Homo sapiens: one gene and its partners. The protein of the gene in region 1 purifies or fractionates together with the protein of each later gene. This does not show direct contact. Each region holds a gene or a part of one and is shown on either strand. Other genes may lie near its edges.

Region 1 (4,216 bases):
ATGTGACCTATTTTCAGTGTTATTAGTGTCCTCCAAACTATAGCCACCTAAGACTTTGAGTTTCTAGCCTTTCTTTTTACTTAAATTTGTTTTTTAAAACAAATTTGCTTTCCACATGCGCATTCTGAATAGTTTTACTGATTTTCACTATAACATGCCATTTTTAACCATTTCTTTTTATAAAGTTTGGACTATTTCCAGCCTCTCACAATTATAAATAACCTTGCATTTAAGGGGCACATTATAGCATATGTGATTTGCTTTCATCTAGTTATTTTATTTCCTACTCATAGAAATCCTGTAAGAAGAGAGACTGGTATCATTTTACTGAGAAGAAATTGAATCAACAAGATGTGAAGGGTTTTGCTTATGGTCACATGATTAATGGCAGGGTTGTAGCCTGAATATATGTATTCTAACTCTAAATTAATTTCTCTTTTATTTTCCCAAAAGAATGTAACCAAACAACTAAAGAAATCATCTAAAAGTCTCCTTCGATCTTAGAAAACAATCCAAGTAACTTACACTGAGTGTCATCGAATAATCCGAGTGAAGATCTGACACACCATAGATATAGAACGTGTTTTCATTCTCAAAGCCTACTGGCAACAGTGGAGCAAAGAAATTCTGAGCAAAGTAATGAAGCATTTTCCACTTTCCTCCGTACTCTGAAAATAATCAAGAGTGTCAGGAGACGGCAAGGTCAAGTAGTCAGAGAGGCACTGTCCAATGGCCCAGCTGTTTGTGGCTCATCGGGGTTCTAAGGGAGTGAGCATGTGAGGGAGAGTCAACAGTGGAGGGCACCCATGTTTGTGAAGCGCTCTGAGCACTCTGGACATTATGTCATGTCACCCTCACAACATCTGGGCAGGCACTAACGAACCAGGGCAGGCATTAACGAACCATGCTGTTAGGCAATTTCATCATTGTGTGATCATAGAGTGTACTTAAACAAACCAAGATGGTATAGCCTACTACACACCTAGACTATATGGTATAGCCTGTTGCTCCAGGCTACTAACCTGTACAGCATATTGCTGTGCTGAATACTGTAGGTAATTCTAATCATAGAAATGGGACAGTGAAAATACAGTATTATAATCTCATGGGACCACCATCATATATGAACTGTGTTGTTGACTGAAATGTTATACGGTGCATGACTGTATATAATAACTTATAGATTCTAGGTAGCTATTGATTGCTTTAATATATAACCATTTCGGGTGATAAGAGATAACAAATACCTCCCCTACTGCACGCACTAGAAGCAGTGGATTTATTGAGCCAATCAACATGGGGCTGTGAGGCCCCCAGAGCAGAAGCAGATATAGAAAACTTGTCACAGCTTCTCCCGGATAACCTTTTTGTCTAATAAGTACAAGGAGCTGGTGATCCTCCTCAGGCAGGCAGGATCCTGCCAGGGTTTAGAAAACAGCCAAGCTCTGGTACTTGGGTTTTCCTACTGTAATATTATTATATATACATATATAATTTTTCTTCTACAGTTAGATATGGTTTGGCTGTGCCCCTACCCAAATCTCATCTTGAATTGTAGCTCCCACAATTCCCATGTGTTGTAGGAGGGACCTGGTAGGAGGTAACTGAACCATGGGGGCAGGTCTTTCCTATGCTGTTCTTGTGATAGTGAATAAGTCTCACGAGATCTGATCGTTTTATAAAGAAGGAGTTTCCTGCACAAGTCCTCTCTTACCCACTGCCATGTAAGAAGTCCCTTTGCTCTTCCTTCGTCTTCTGCCATGATTGTGAGGTCTTCCCAGCCATGTGGAACTGTGAGTCCATTAAACCTCTTTTTCTTTACAAATTACCAGTCTCAGGTATGTCTTCATCAGCAGCATGAGAACAGACTAATACAGGTTCCTAGCTCACAACTACCATAGCCCTTGTTACAGACTCTTGTTATAATGTTGAGAAGCTTTAGGACTCAAAAGCAGGCCTCAGAAAACAGAATCTATCTCTCTGATCTCCTTCCCTCCTTTCACCAGCCCAAGGCAGGTCTCTAATCCGATTGTGGGTCATAAGACACTCATTCAGAAGGTGTCCTGCCTCATACCCTGGAGGAGGAAATGCTTCACAGAGAGGCCAAGAAGCTGAATGGACAGGCCTTGCTGTGTTTCCCCACTCAGTCTAATGGTATTAGATCATACCCGCTTTGTCCAATCACATTTCTACATGGTTATCAATCATGGCTGTCCAATGAAGTCTCCCTATAACGCCCAAGAGGACAGAGTTCAAAGAACTTCCACATAGCTGACCATGTGAAGGCTGACAGAAAGAGGAACAAGTATTCATCTACATGCCTGGAGGGTGGCACACCCCAGCCTCACAGGGATAAAGTTCCTGCACTCAGGACCCTTCCAGACTTCACCCCATATATCTCTTCATACGGCTGTTTATTTGTGTCTTTTAAAACATCCTCTGTAATACAGCAGTTAGAATGTTTCCTTGAGTTCTGTGAGCCATTCCAGCAAATTAAACCCAAAGAAGGGGTCATGGGAACCCCAGCTTGAAGCTGGTCAGTCAGAAGTTCTAGAGGCCCAGACTTGCGACTGCTGTCTAAAGAGGGAAGGCAGCTTTGTGGAACTGAGTTCTCAACCTATGGAATCTGATGCAATCTGCAGGTAGATAGTGTCAGACTTAAATTGGAGGGCACTCGCATGGTGTCCACTGCAGAAGTGATTGCTTGCTTGGTGTGTGGGGGAAGTTTCCCATATATTTGGTCACAGAAGTCTTCTGTGTGGATTGTTGTTGTGGAGTGAGGGAATTAACAAAGCACTTTTAGGCCAGGTGCGGTGGCTCATGCCTGTAATCCCAACACTTTGGGAAGCTGAGGAGGGTAGACTGCTTCAGACCAGGTGTTCAAGACCAGCCTGGGCAACATGGCAAAACCCTGTCTCCAGAAAAAAAATACAAAAATGAGCCAGGCATGGTGGTATGCAGCTATAGACCCAGGTACTCAGGAAGTTGAGGTGGGAGGAAGGCTTGAGCCTGTGGGGTGGAGGCTACAGTGAGCCATGATTGCACCACTGCACTCCAGCCTGGGCAAAAGCAGAGTGAGACCATCTCAACAAAAAAACAAAACAAAACAAAAAACCACTTAGAGTTTGAGTGTCTTGTTTCCCACAGACCTACTCTTCCTGAGGAACTCAGGAATAATCTGCATGGGATCACTTAAAGGAATATTTACAAAAATTGGGCTCTCCCATTTCTTGAATCGAACTCAGTTTCAGTCCACAACCTCATCCACAGACAGAAAGCAGGATCAGTATCCAAGAGTCTCTGAACAGTTATCTCTTTGCCTACCTTTCCAGCATCCCAGAAGGATTTTCCCCCCAATTCTACCCCTGATTCTCATTCAATGCTCTCTTATCTGGTTGGTGCTGATAAAGAGTTTGGTCAGAGAAATTTGATTAGAAATCCAATTCTCTGTAAGAGTCATCCATCTGGCACTAATGAAAACATGTTTGGAATGAATTTCTTTTGATCTGCATTCACAGCCAGTTTAAGAGCCTCACCCCTGCACTCTAGCCTGGGTGTCAGAACAAGACTCTGTCTCAAAAAAAACAAAAAGAACCTCACCCAACCTTTCTACTTTGTGGCCTTGCCTCGTTTTTGACCCCAAACTATTCTTTACATTATTAACTGAACTTTGTTTCAAGTCATCTCTAGTGAAGGGCAAAGACTATTATTCCTTAATTTTTTTTAATGTACCAGAATAGATGGGATAATTCGAACTGCAGGTTCCATGCCAGTCATCTCACCTGTTGCTAGTTGAACTGTTTCAACTGGTCACCTTTCCCATTCGGGATTCTGCCTCTACTAGCTTTTCCCCAAGAGCTAAACAGGGCATAATAAAGATGGCCTTAAGAGACATCTTCATTATGTCCTTAAAGGACATCTTTATTTGTCCTTAAAGGTGAATCAGAGAAAGGGAAACTTTAACACATAAGCGGGCCAAACTTCTACCTGATTGAATTCTCCAACACAGAAGAAGGGATGCTTAAGTTCATGCTTCTTTAGCCCTGGAATGCCCTCTTAAATAAATTCAAAATTCTATGCGTAATAACAAGACACATGGCTGAGACTTTTGTATAGGAATCTATCCCATGCTTAGCCTGCTGTTGCAACTTTGCACAGCACAGAACCCATAATTAGGTTGACCCTAAGGCTCATGGAAAGGCTACTAAGGTGAGTT
Region 2 (3,507 bases), on another chromosome or scaffold:
AGGATAGACCCATCTGTCACCCCCTGACCTCCTCTGACCTGACCTACCTTGTGAGCCAGTGAGGGAGGACCCAGCACTGGGGCCTGGGCCAAGTCCACCCAGAAATCAGGGACTGGCCTGGGGCTCACCTCTGCCTCTCCCAGGCTCCAGCTTGTGCTCTCCACCGCATCTACAGTTTACGTACTCGGTTCCTCAGAGCACCCACTGGTGGTTCCACAGACCCCCTTGGGGGCAGATGGGGTTTCTGAGTGGGATTGGAAGCTGTAGATCAGCTCCTGTCCTGACTTGGATGAGACCAGCTCCTCTTTCACCTGCGTTATGTATTGTCTCTTTGGAAGATTTCATTTAAAGATACAGTACCATGGCTAAAACCAACCCCAAAACTAAGACTCTTGCTCAGTCCCTCACCTGGTGCAGGAACCTCCATGTAACATTCTCTGAGCAGCAAAGGCTGGATGCTGGGGACACAGAGGTCAGCTGGACATGATTTTTGCTTTCAGGGAGCTCACAGTGCAAGCCCTGGCCTGCACGCCTCCAGGGCCCAAGTGCTCCCTGCTGCTTGGCCAGTGGTTGCATTACCAGGCCATTTGGACTACCAGAAAATCACCTCCATGCTCTTTCAAGCCCTCGGATCCCAAACTGCTTCCTAAAACATCGGATCACCCAGCCCTGGTGTGCTTACCCACAGGAAGTAAGAGGTCAGGCTCCGTCCCAGCCAGTCCATGATGTTGAAGAGGAGGAAGCAGCAGATGGGGTTGAAGAACTGACCTGGGAGGGAAACGGCTGCAGCTCATACTGGTCTCCAACTCCCCTCTCCCGTCCTCTCCCCTTTGTACCCCCTGCCCTGCCGTCTTCTCCACCCTGACACTCACTCCACTTCCCAGGACTGGTGGAGCTGGTCACCATGGCTGTGATGGCGGGGAAGACGGACAGGGTGACTGTGAAGACCAACACAAGGCACAGCGCTGTCAGCCAGATCTGGGAGCCAGAGGCAGGGGTGTGAGCAGGCAGGGCAGTCCCAGGGCCCCACCCTCTTGCCCAAGCCCCATGTGGGAGCAGGACACTTGGGGCCTGGCCCAGCTGTGTCCCTGACCCACTGTGACCCTATGACCTTGGAGTCAATGTGAGCCCCATTCTTCCCCAAAGATGGTGGTTGGGGGCTGTATCCAAGCCAAACCTTCTGGAAGACAGTGAAGACTGAAGGTTTTCCTGGCTTCTGGGGCTCATCTGGCTCTGATTCCGGCTCCTTCTCCAGGTCAAGATCCAGGGTCAGAGCTACTTTCTGGGGACTACTGGGAATCCCGTTCTCATCTGGGGTGAGGGGGGACGGGGAAGGGTCATGCTTGTGACCCAGGTTTCCCGACAGCCAGGCCCAACGAAGGGAGATTCCCAGCAGTTAAAACAAGTGATCCTCAGCTCAGCATGGTGGCTCACGCCTGTAATCCCAACATTTTGGAAGGCCGAGGCGGGCATATTGCTTGAGCCCAGGAGTTCGAGACCAGCCTGGGCAACATGGTGAATCCCCATTTCTACAAAAATAAAAAAATTAGCCGGGCATGGCAGCCTGCACCTATAGTCCCAGCTACTCGGGAGACTGAGGTGGCTCACTTGAGCCCAGGAGGTCGAGGCTGCAGTTGAGTTGTGATAGCACTGCAGTGCAGCCTAGGTGACAGAGTGAGATCCTGACTCAAAATAACAACAACCCCCTCACCCCAAAACAAAAAAAGGTGATCTTCCTCCAGCCTAAGCTGAGGCTGCAGGCGAAGGGAATTCATGATGGAAATATGCATAGCTACCAGGAAGCGCGTGCATGGGTCGGGTGATGAGCGAAGCACCTTAGATGGATTATCTCATTACCATTGCTTTACAAATGACACATTGAGGTTCAGAGGGGTGCAGTGGCTAAGTGGTTTGTCTCAGGCCACACAGCTGGGATGTTGTGAAACTAGTATTCCAATTCAGAGGTCTTCGGATCCAAAGTTTGCATGCATGGAACCTCTGTCGCCTCCCCATTTTATAGAGGTGGAAACTGAGGCCCAAACAACAGCAGGGATGACTTTAATCCTACCAACTTCCCTTCATGATCTTCCTGTTTGCACAAGGCTACTAGGGGTGGGCTCTGGCTGGGAACAGATGGAACAGCTTCCCAGGGGAGGTGGCTCTAGCTTCCTCTGCATCTCCCACCTCCCCAGGAGGGTCTCAGGGCTTACCAGACTGGAGGAGCTCAGCTTTGGTCTCCAGCTCCTGAGCTTGGGCCTGGGATGATTTATTGGCCAGGTAGTAGCGGGCAAACTTCTGCAGAAGGACAGGAAAGTGTTGGGCCTGCCTGGCTTGCCTGAGGTGTCTGGATCCCTCCCCATACCATTGGCCTGGAGGCTGGGGCCCCTCAGTGTCTTCTCTGGGGGTCAGGGCTGAGACCAGGTCTCCTCCACCTCCCCTGGCCTCTCTCAGGGCCTCAGGCTCAGGACTCTATCCAAGATGCTTTGAGGTGGGGCCTCGAGCCCAACAGCAGGCTCACCAGGTGAGGCAGGCTCAGGTAACACACGATGGACATGAGGATGCCCACACAGGGCGTGATAAAGTACCCCAGGGCAGAGGTCTCGGCGTCCACGCCACCTGCGGAGGAACTTCAGCTGCAGAAGAGAGGCACCTGGTCCCGCCGGCTCCCACGGGGCTTCCAACTCTTGTCCCACTTCCCATTGTGTACTTCTCAGACCCACTCCCAGCCTCTTCCGCTCCTCCCTTCACTGACAAATGGGAATCTTGTACAGGGCCCCAGAGCAGCCCTGCACTTCTCTCACTTTCCCCATGTGTCATTTTTGTTGAGCACGTACTATGTGCCAGTAGCCTTCTCTCATTGCATGCTCATTACAATCTGAGCAGGGAGCTATACCAATCACGTCGGTGGGGAAGCTAGCACAGAGAGGTGACAAGCCTTGTCCAACACCCCTAGCTGGTAAGCGGTGAAGCAGATTCAAACCCAAGACTATCTGAATCCCAAACCCATCCCCTTATCCTTCAACTTCAACCTGCTGCCACATGCCAGTATTAGCCCCAGGAATCCTGCCCCTGTCCCTGAGTTAACCCAGTCCTCACTTGGTTATTACTCCTCACTGCAGGGCCCATGAGCCCCACTCCCTAGCCCCAGACCCAATCCCCATTTCCATATCACCTGCTTACCTCCATCTTCACCCAGAACCCATGTGTCTTGCTCTCACATGCCCTCTCTCTTCCCCAAACCTCAGAGGCCACCCCAGCCCTCCAGCCACCCAAGTGCACTCACTGGCCATGGACAGGAGCATGGCAAGGGCAGCAAAGATCCCAGCCAGGCCCTGGCCGCTGAGGAAGAGGGTGCTGTAGGTGGAGGGCATGGTGCCCAGCTGCCCGAAGAGGCTGCCCTGTAGGACTGCACTGAAGGCTGTGGAGGACAGGGATGGGGGCTGCTGCTCAACTAGGCAAGACTCAGAGGCTCCCTGGAGGAGGTGCCGGCAGGATACACAGGGGACT
Region 3 (2,793 bases), on another chromosome or scaffold:
AGACTGGGCTGGGCCTGGTCCTGGGCTCCAGCCTCCAGCCTCCACTCACACCCTCCTCTTCCTCAGGATCATCTTCTCCACGCCCCTGGCCGTCATTGCCTACTTCCTCATCTGGTTCGTGCCCGACTTCCCACACGGCCAGACCTATTGGTACCTGCTTTTCTATTGCCTCTTTGAAACAATGGTCACGGTGAGTGTGGGTACCTCCCTTGGGTGTCTCTAGGGGCCGGGAGGAGGGCGGTCCTTGGGGCCCCCAGGGTTGGTACTGGAAGCTACATCAGTGTGTCCACCCGCCTGACCAGCCAATGACCTGTCTTCTATGCCAGTGTTTCCATGTTCCCTACTCGGCTCTCACCATGTTCATCAGCACCGAGCAGACTGAGCGGGATTCTGCCACCGCCTATCGTGAGTCTCCCCAGCCCACCTGACCCCACCCTCCAGGGACCCTCCAGCCATACTTCTTCCCTTGCGGGTCCAGCTCTTTGCTCTGCTCTAGAGTGTGGGTGTGAAACCATCTTAAAAATAACTCAATCCCCTTATTGCTCAGATGAGACCTGGAGAGGTGCATATGCGTTCAAACCAAGGTGTCACCTACCCCACTACCTCTACCCACCCTGCCTGGAGCTACCGCTGGGCTCCCACCCATTTGACCTTCCTCCCTGGGCCCACAATCCATGAGGCCCCTCCAAAACACCTCCTTTTCTCCTGCCAGGGATGACTGTGGAAGTGCTGGGCACAGTGCTGGGCACGGCGATCCAGGGACAAATCGTGGGCCAAGCAGACACGCCTTGTTTCCAGGACCTCAATAGCTCTACAGTAGCTTCACAAAGTGCCAACCATACACATGGCACCACCTCACACAGGGAAACGGTGAGGCCCTGGGCAGGGCAGGGATTTGGGGAGATAAGGAACAGTGAGGTGGTTTGTAGTCATCCTAAAGATAGTAACAGCTAGTGTTTATTAAATAAATGTTGGGCATTTGATATACATAACAATTAATGCACCCAATATACCTACTTTGCAGAAAAAGAAACTGAAGCTTAGAGAGGCTGAATAAGTTGCCCAGAGTCATAAAGTTAGTGAATTGCAGAGATTTGGGAAGATTTGAATTCTGGGCTGTCAGACTCTGCAGCCTGGTTTCTGTTTTTTTCCTTTTATTATTATTTGTAGAGACGGGGTCTTGCCAAGTTGCCCAGGCTGGTTTCAAACTCCTGGGATTACAGGTGTGAGGGCTGCACTCAACCAGCCTGGTTTCTGAGCATGTTGTGAATCTTAACTGTCCAGCCTTGGGAAGCAACAGCAGGCCCAGGATGATCCTCCCATTTCACACATGGAGACAGTACGCTCCCAGAGGGGAGGGGACTGGCCCAAGATCATTGAGTGGGGCTGCTGGAACTGGGGTGCTGGGATGAGCTCAAACTGACCATCCTTGTATGTCGCCTTCACCTCCTTATAGCAAAAGGCATACCTGCTGGCAGCGGGGGTCATTGTCTGTATCTATATAATCTGTGCTGTCATCCTGATCCTGGGCGTGCGGGAGCAGAGAGGTAAGGGGGTGCCTGGGAAGGGGTGCAGGCCTCAGCATGGACAGCTGTATCTTTCTGCCTGGCCCTCAGGCTTTGGGAGGGGTCTCTGCTCCTTCCTCACTGTCCGCTCTGGCCCCCAGAACCCTATGAAGCCCAGCAGTCTGAGCCAATCGCCTACTTCCGGGGCCTACGGCTGGTCATGAGCCACGGCCCATACATCAAACTTATTACTGGCTTCCTCTTCACCTCCTTGGCTTTCATGGTGAGTGGGTTCTGACATGCTCAGCCTGAGAAGGAGGTGTAATGGGAGCGGGGTGAGCAGAGGTCTCTGGGGCTTGGGGGATGTCTTGGGGAGGCTCAGCCCCAACATCACCTCCTTCCTTGCATTTCCTTCCCTACCTTGCTCCATGCCCAGCTGGTGGAGGGGAACTTTGTCTTGTTTTGCACCTACACCTTGGGCTTCCGCAATGAATTCCAGAATCTACTCCTGGCCATCATGGTGAGTGGGACCTGAGCAGGGGCGGGCAGCCTGGGCTGAGGTGACATAGGCTGTGGAATGGTTCTTGGAATAGGCAGAGGATGTTTCTCAGGCTGGCCCAAGGTCATGAAAGGATGAGGGAGGCTTCTCAGGGTATTTGGTTGGACCTTGCGAAGGTAGGACTGTGAAAGAAAGAGTTTGAGGTTAGATGTTTGAGTAGTGAGCACAGCAAAAGCAAGGGCGAGGACACCAGGAACTTGGCTCAGAGGTTTGAGAGGGCAGCAGACAAGGTGGGCCTGGACCAGCTCTGAGCTCCCCTGGGGAGCCGTCAAAGGTGCCTGTCATCTTCGTTGCTGCCCACATGATGTCATCTGGCTGCTCTTGGGCAGGGCTGGGAGCCACTTTGGGGTTCTGGGAAGGGCAGGAGGGGCTCTGTGGCTCTAAAGCACCTCCCTTTAACCCCCTTTGTCCATCCACAGCTCTCGGCCACTTTAACCATTCCCATCTGGCAGTGGTTCTTGACCCGGTTTGGCAAGAAGACAGCTGTATATGTTGGGATCTCAGTGAGTGGGGTTGAAGAGCAGAGCCTGGGTTGAGTTGGGATGTCTGGTGGGAACCTCCCAGCTGATTCATCTTCCTGCACCCCCTTCCCTAGTCAGCAGTGCCATTTCTCATCTTGGTGGCCCTCATGGAGAGTAACCTCATCATTACATATGCGGTAGCTGTGGCAGCTGGCATCAGTGTGGCAGCTGCCTTCTTACTACCCTGGTAGGTATATACAGGCCCCCC
Region 4 (3,637 bases), on another chromosome or scaffold:
AACATGCCCAACCTATCTAGTCATTCGAGTCGCAGCTATGCCAACGGCTGCCCAAATGATAAGATCTGGCTTGGGCCTGGGTTCTTAACTGACAGTGACAATCGCCAAGATGGTAGGGGGCACTTTCCAGAGGATAAGGAAGGGTGCACTATACAAAACACTAGACTTGAAATCAAGTCAGCATTCTATGCCGGGCTCTATGGATACAAAGATAAACCAGATGCCAAGCCTATTCAGTCTCACAGGAAAAACCTATCAGTAAACAGCCAGAGTGGCCACAGATGCTGTAAACTTAGACATACACTGCAAGAGCTCAAGTGAACCCACCATCAGCTTGGCCTGGGAGGTGCAGGAGGGACTCCAGTAGGGGCACTCTGGCTCTGTTTTGGAGGGCAAGCAAGACAGGTGGAGAAGGCAGGTGCTAATTCCAGTCAATGGGAACAACATGTACAGGGACATGGAGTCATGACACTGAATGGCATATGTCTGGAATGGCAAGCTGTTTAGCAAGGCAGAAGAGCATGTGGGAGGACCGTGAGGGCGAGGCGAGGGCGACTTTATTCTGTGTAGGGTGAGATGCTGTCAAGTTTTCAAAAAAAATATAAGTGTCGGACAAGCGCAGTGCCTCATGCCTGTAATCCCAGCACTTTGAGAGGCCGAGGTGGGCGGATCATCTGGGGTCAGGAATTCAAGACCAGCCTGGGCAACATGGCCAAACCCTGTCTCTACTAAAAAATACCAAAAAAATGGCCAGGTGTGGTGGTGGACGCCTGTAGTCCCAGCTACTCGGGAGGCTGAGGCAGGAGAATCACTTGAACCTGGGAGGCGGACGTTGCAGTGAGCCAAGATCACGCCACTGCTCTCCAGCCTGGGCAAGAGTGCAAGACTCCGTTTCAAAAAAAAAAAAAAAAATCTAAGTGTCAAAAGCAGCCTGGCAGGAGCGTGGTATATGGCTGCAGCAACAAAGGCCAGGAACATGCTTCCTGGGCACCCTGGCTGCCATGCCCAGCAGCACCAGGTATGCAGAAGGCACTCAATAAATACTCACTAGATGGTCTGGGGTTAAGATGGCAGTGGGGATGAAGAGAAAGGAGTGCATTCAGAAGAAGCTTGTGAGTGCTGATCAGGCGGGGAAGAGGAAACTGAAGAAGGGAAAGGACTTAACGCTGAGACCACAGGATGAGGCAGCAGGAGCACACCGTGCTTCATTCATATGATCTTTTTTTTTTTTTTTTTTTTGAGACAGAGTCTCGCTCCGTCGCCCAGGCTGGAGTGCAGTGGTGGGATCTCGGCTCACTGCAAGTTCCGCCTCCCGGGTTCACGCCATTCTCCTGCCTCAGCCTCCTGAGTAGCTGGGACTACAGGCGCCCACCACCACGCCCGGCTAATTTTTTGTATTTTTAGTAGAGACAGGGTTTCACCATGTTAGCCAGGATGGTCTCGATCTCCTGACCTCGTGATTCGCCCACCTTGGCCTCCCAAAGTTCTGGGATTACAGGCGTGAGCCACCGCGCCCGGCAATATGATCACTGTTATTTACAGACTGTGCACTACACCTGTCAGCCACTGACGATGCACAGATGAACCTGGCCCTGACTTCACGGGAGCTCAGTTTGCTGGTGAGGGCAGACAGACAAACACGATCACAACTCAAACAGACAAGCTCTTCAATGATGACACAAGGAAGTAGGTAGCTGTTGTGGCATGGGTAAGGGCAGCCTGGGGGCCTGCTCTAACGAAGTACCTGTTGAGTGGAAGACTGGAAAGAAGAGGAGCAGATGGTCAGGTAGATACCCATGGAAGGGAGATTCTAAGCAGAACCAGTGAAGGCCAAAGACACAAGTGTGCAAACAGCACCAGCATTTGGAAGCACAGACCCGGGGGAGAGAAGAGGTTGACAGACCCATGCCAAGAAGACTCCTGCCTTAAAGCAGCAGCTCCCTGACTCCCCTCCCCACCACCACACTCCATCCAGCCCCAGTACCCCGTCTTCCACACTGCTGCTCCAGAGACCTGTTCCCACACCTTTCATTTCCAGAAACTTCAAACCCAGAGGAGTTTAAACATGACAAGACTTTTCTGCCCTGCATCTAGATTTTAAAAATGAACATTTTACCATTAAAAGTTTTTCTCTATATATATTTGCTTTTTAATTTCTTTTTTTCTTTTTTTTTTCAGACAGGGCCTTGTTCTCTCATGTCAGCTGGAGGGCAGTGGCGCGATCTCGGCTCACTTCAGCCTCCACCTCCTGCGCTCGAGCAATTACCTTGCTTCAGCCACCTGTATAGCTGGGACTACAGCCCTGCACCACCACACCCTGCTAAATGTTGTAGTTACCCTGCTAAATGTTGTAGTTTTAGTAGAGACAGGGTTTCATCATGTTGTCCACGCTGGTCTTGAGCTTCTGGCCTCATGTGATCCGTGAGCCTTGGCCTCCTACAGTGCTAGGATTACAGGTGTGAACCACCACACCCGGCCCTATATTTGCTTTTTAATTTCTACTGAACCATTTGAAAGTAGAGTTTTGGGCTGGGGGCAGTGGCTCACGCCTATAATCCCACCACTTTGGGAGACCAAAGCAGGCCAAGGCGGGCAGATCACGAGGTCAGGAGATCGAGACCATCCTGGCCAAATGGTGAAACCCCATCTCTATTAAAAATACAAAAAAATTAGCTGGTTGTGGTGGCGCACGCCTGTAGTCCCAGCTAATCGGGAGGCTGAGACAGGAGAATCACTTGAACCCGGGAGGCAGAGGTTGCAGCGAGCCGAGATCACCCCACTGCACTCCGGCCTGGGTGACAGAGCGAGACTCTGTCTCAGGAAAAAAAAAAAAAAAAGAAAGTAGAGTTTGGACATAATGATACTTCTCCCGTAAATCCTTCAGCATGTACCTCCAAAACACAATGACAGAACTACAATGCTATCATCACATCTGAGAAAAACAATTATTCCATCATATCTAATATCCACTCCCTATTAAAATATCCCCAGTTCTCCCCAAAATGTCTTTCATTGCTCTTGTGGGTAGGGGAATGGGGGCAGACAGGGAGGAGGGATTAGGAACCAGTCAAGGTTTGTGTCATAGAGATCTTTCTACTAGGAAAATGTCCGCTTAGAATTCTTTAGACGTGTGGCTGGGCACAATGGCTCACACCTATAATCCTAGAACTTTGGGAGGCGGAGGGTGGGAGGACTGCTTGAGGCCAGGAGTTTGAGACTAGCCTGGGGAACATAGCAAGACCCCCCTCTCTACAAAAAAATTAAAAATTAGCAGCCGGGTGTGGTGATTCATCCCTGTAATGCCAGCACTTTGGGAGGCCGTGGTGGGAGGATCACTTGAGGCCAGGAGTTTGAGACCAGCCTGGGCAACATGGAGAAACCCCATCTCTACTAAAAATACAAAAATTATCCAGGCGTGGTGGTGCACGCCTGTAAGTCCCAGCTGTTCAGGTAGCTGAGACAGGAGAACTGCTTGAACCCAGGAGGTGGAGGTTGCAGGGAGCCGAGATCACGCCACTGAACTCCAGCCTGGGCAACAGAGTGACACTCTGTCTCAAATAAATAAATAAATAAATAAATAAATAAATAATAGCTGGGCATGGTGGTGTGGGCCTGTAGTCCCAGCTACTTGGGAGGC

What was found.
Region 2: the proteins of MANBA (region 1) and SLC29A2 fractionate together in Homo sapiens (co-fractionation; one large-scale study listed by BioGRID). This does not show direct contact.
Region 3: the proteins of MANBA (region 1) and MFSD2A fractionate together in Homo sapiens (co-fractionation; one large-scale study listed by BioGRID). This does not show direct contact.
Region 4: the proteins of MANBA (region 1) and NIPSNAP2 fractionate together in Homo sapiens (co-fractionation; one large-scale study listed by BioGRID). This does not show direct contact.

What each region holds. Positions count from the first base shown.
Region 1 is NC_000004.12:102,635,340-102,639,555, forward strand, and holds part of MANBA (beta-mannosidase precursor), read right to left. Parts: intron 669-4,216; coding exon 526-668; intron 1-525.
Region 2 is NC_000011.10:66,365,254-66,368,760, forward strand, and holds part of SLC29A2 (equilibrative nucleoside transporter 2), read right to left. Parts: intron 3,419-3,507; coding exon 3,284-3,418; intron 2,617-3,283; coding exon 2,519-2,616; intron 2,296-2,518; coding exon 2,211-2,295; intron 1,312-2,210; coding exon 1,178-1,311; coding exon of another isoform or gene 979-1,177; coding exon 873-978; intron 769-872; coding exon 683-768; intron 1-682. UniProt on the Homo sapiens protein: Bidirectional uniporter involved in the facilitative transport of nucleosides and nucleobases, and contributes to maintaining their cellular homeostasis. Functions as a Na(+)-independent, passive transporter.
Region 3 is NC_000001.11:39,965,145-39,967,937, forward strand, and holds part of MFSD2A (sodium-dependent lysophosphatidylcholine symporter 1), read left to right. Parts: intron 1-66; coding exon 67-190; intron 191-326; coding exon 327-405; intron 406-712; coding exon 713-870; intron 871-1,456; coding exon 1,457-1,547; intron 1,548-1,666; coding exon 1,667-1,788; intron 1,789-1,941; coding exon 1,942-2,025; intron 2,026-2,483; coding exon 2,484-2,567; intron 2,568-2,659; coding exon 2,660-2,772; intron 2,773-2,793. UniProt on the Homo sapiens protein: Sodium-dependent lysophosphatidylcholine (LPC) symporter, which plays an essential role for blood-brain barrier formation and function. Specifically expressed in endothelium of the blood-brain barrier of micro-vessels and transports LPC into the brain.
Region 4 is NC_000007.14:55,967,585-55,971,221, reverse strand, and holds part of NIPSNAP2 (protein NipSnap homolog 2), read right to left. Parts: intron 1-3,637. UniProt on the Homo sapiens protein: Protein involved in mitophagy by facilitating recruitment of the autophagy machinery required for clearance of damaged mitochondria.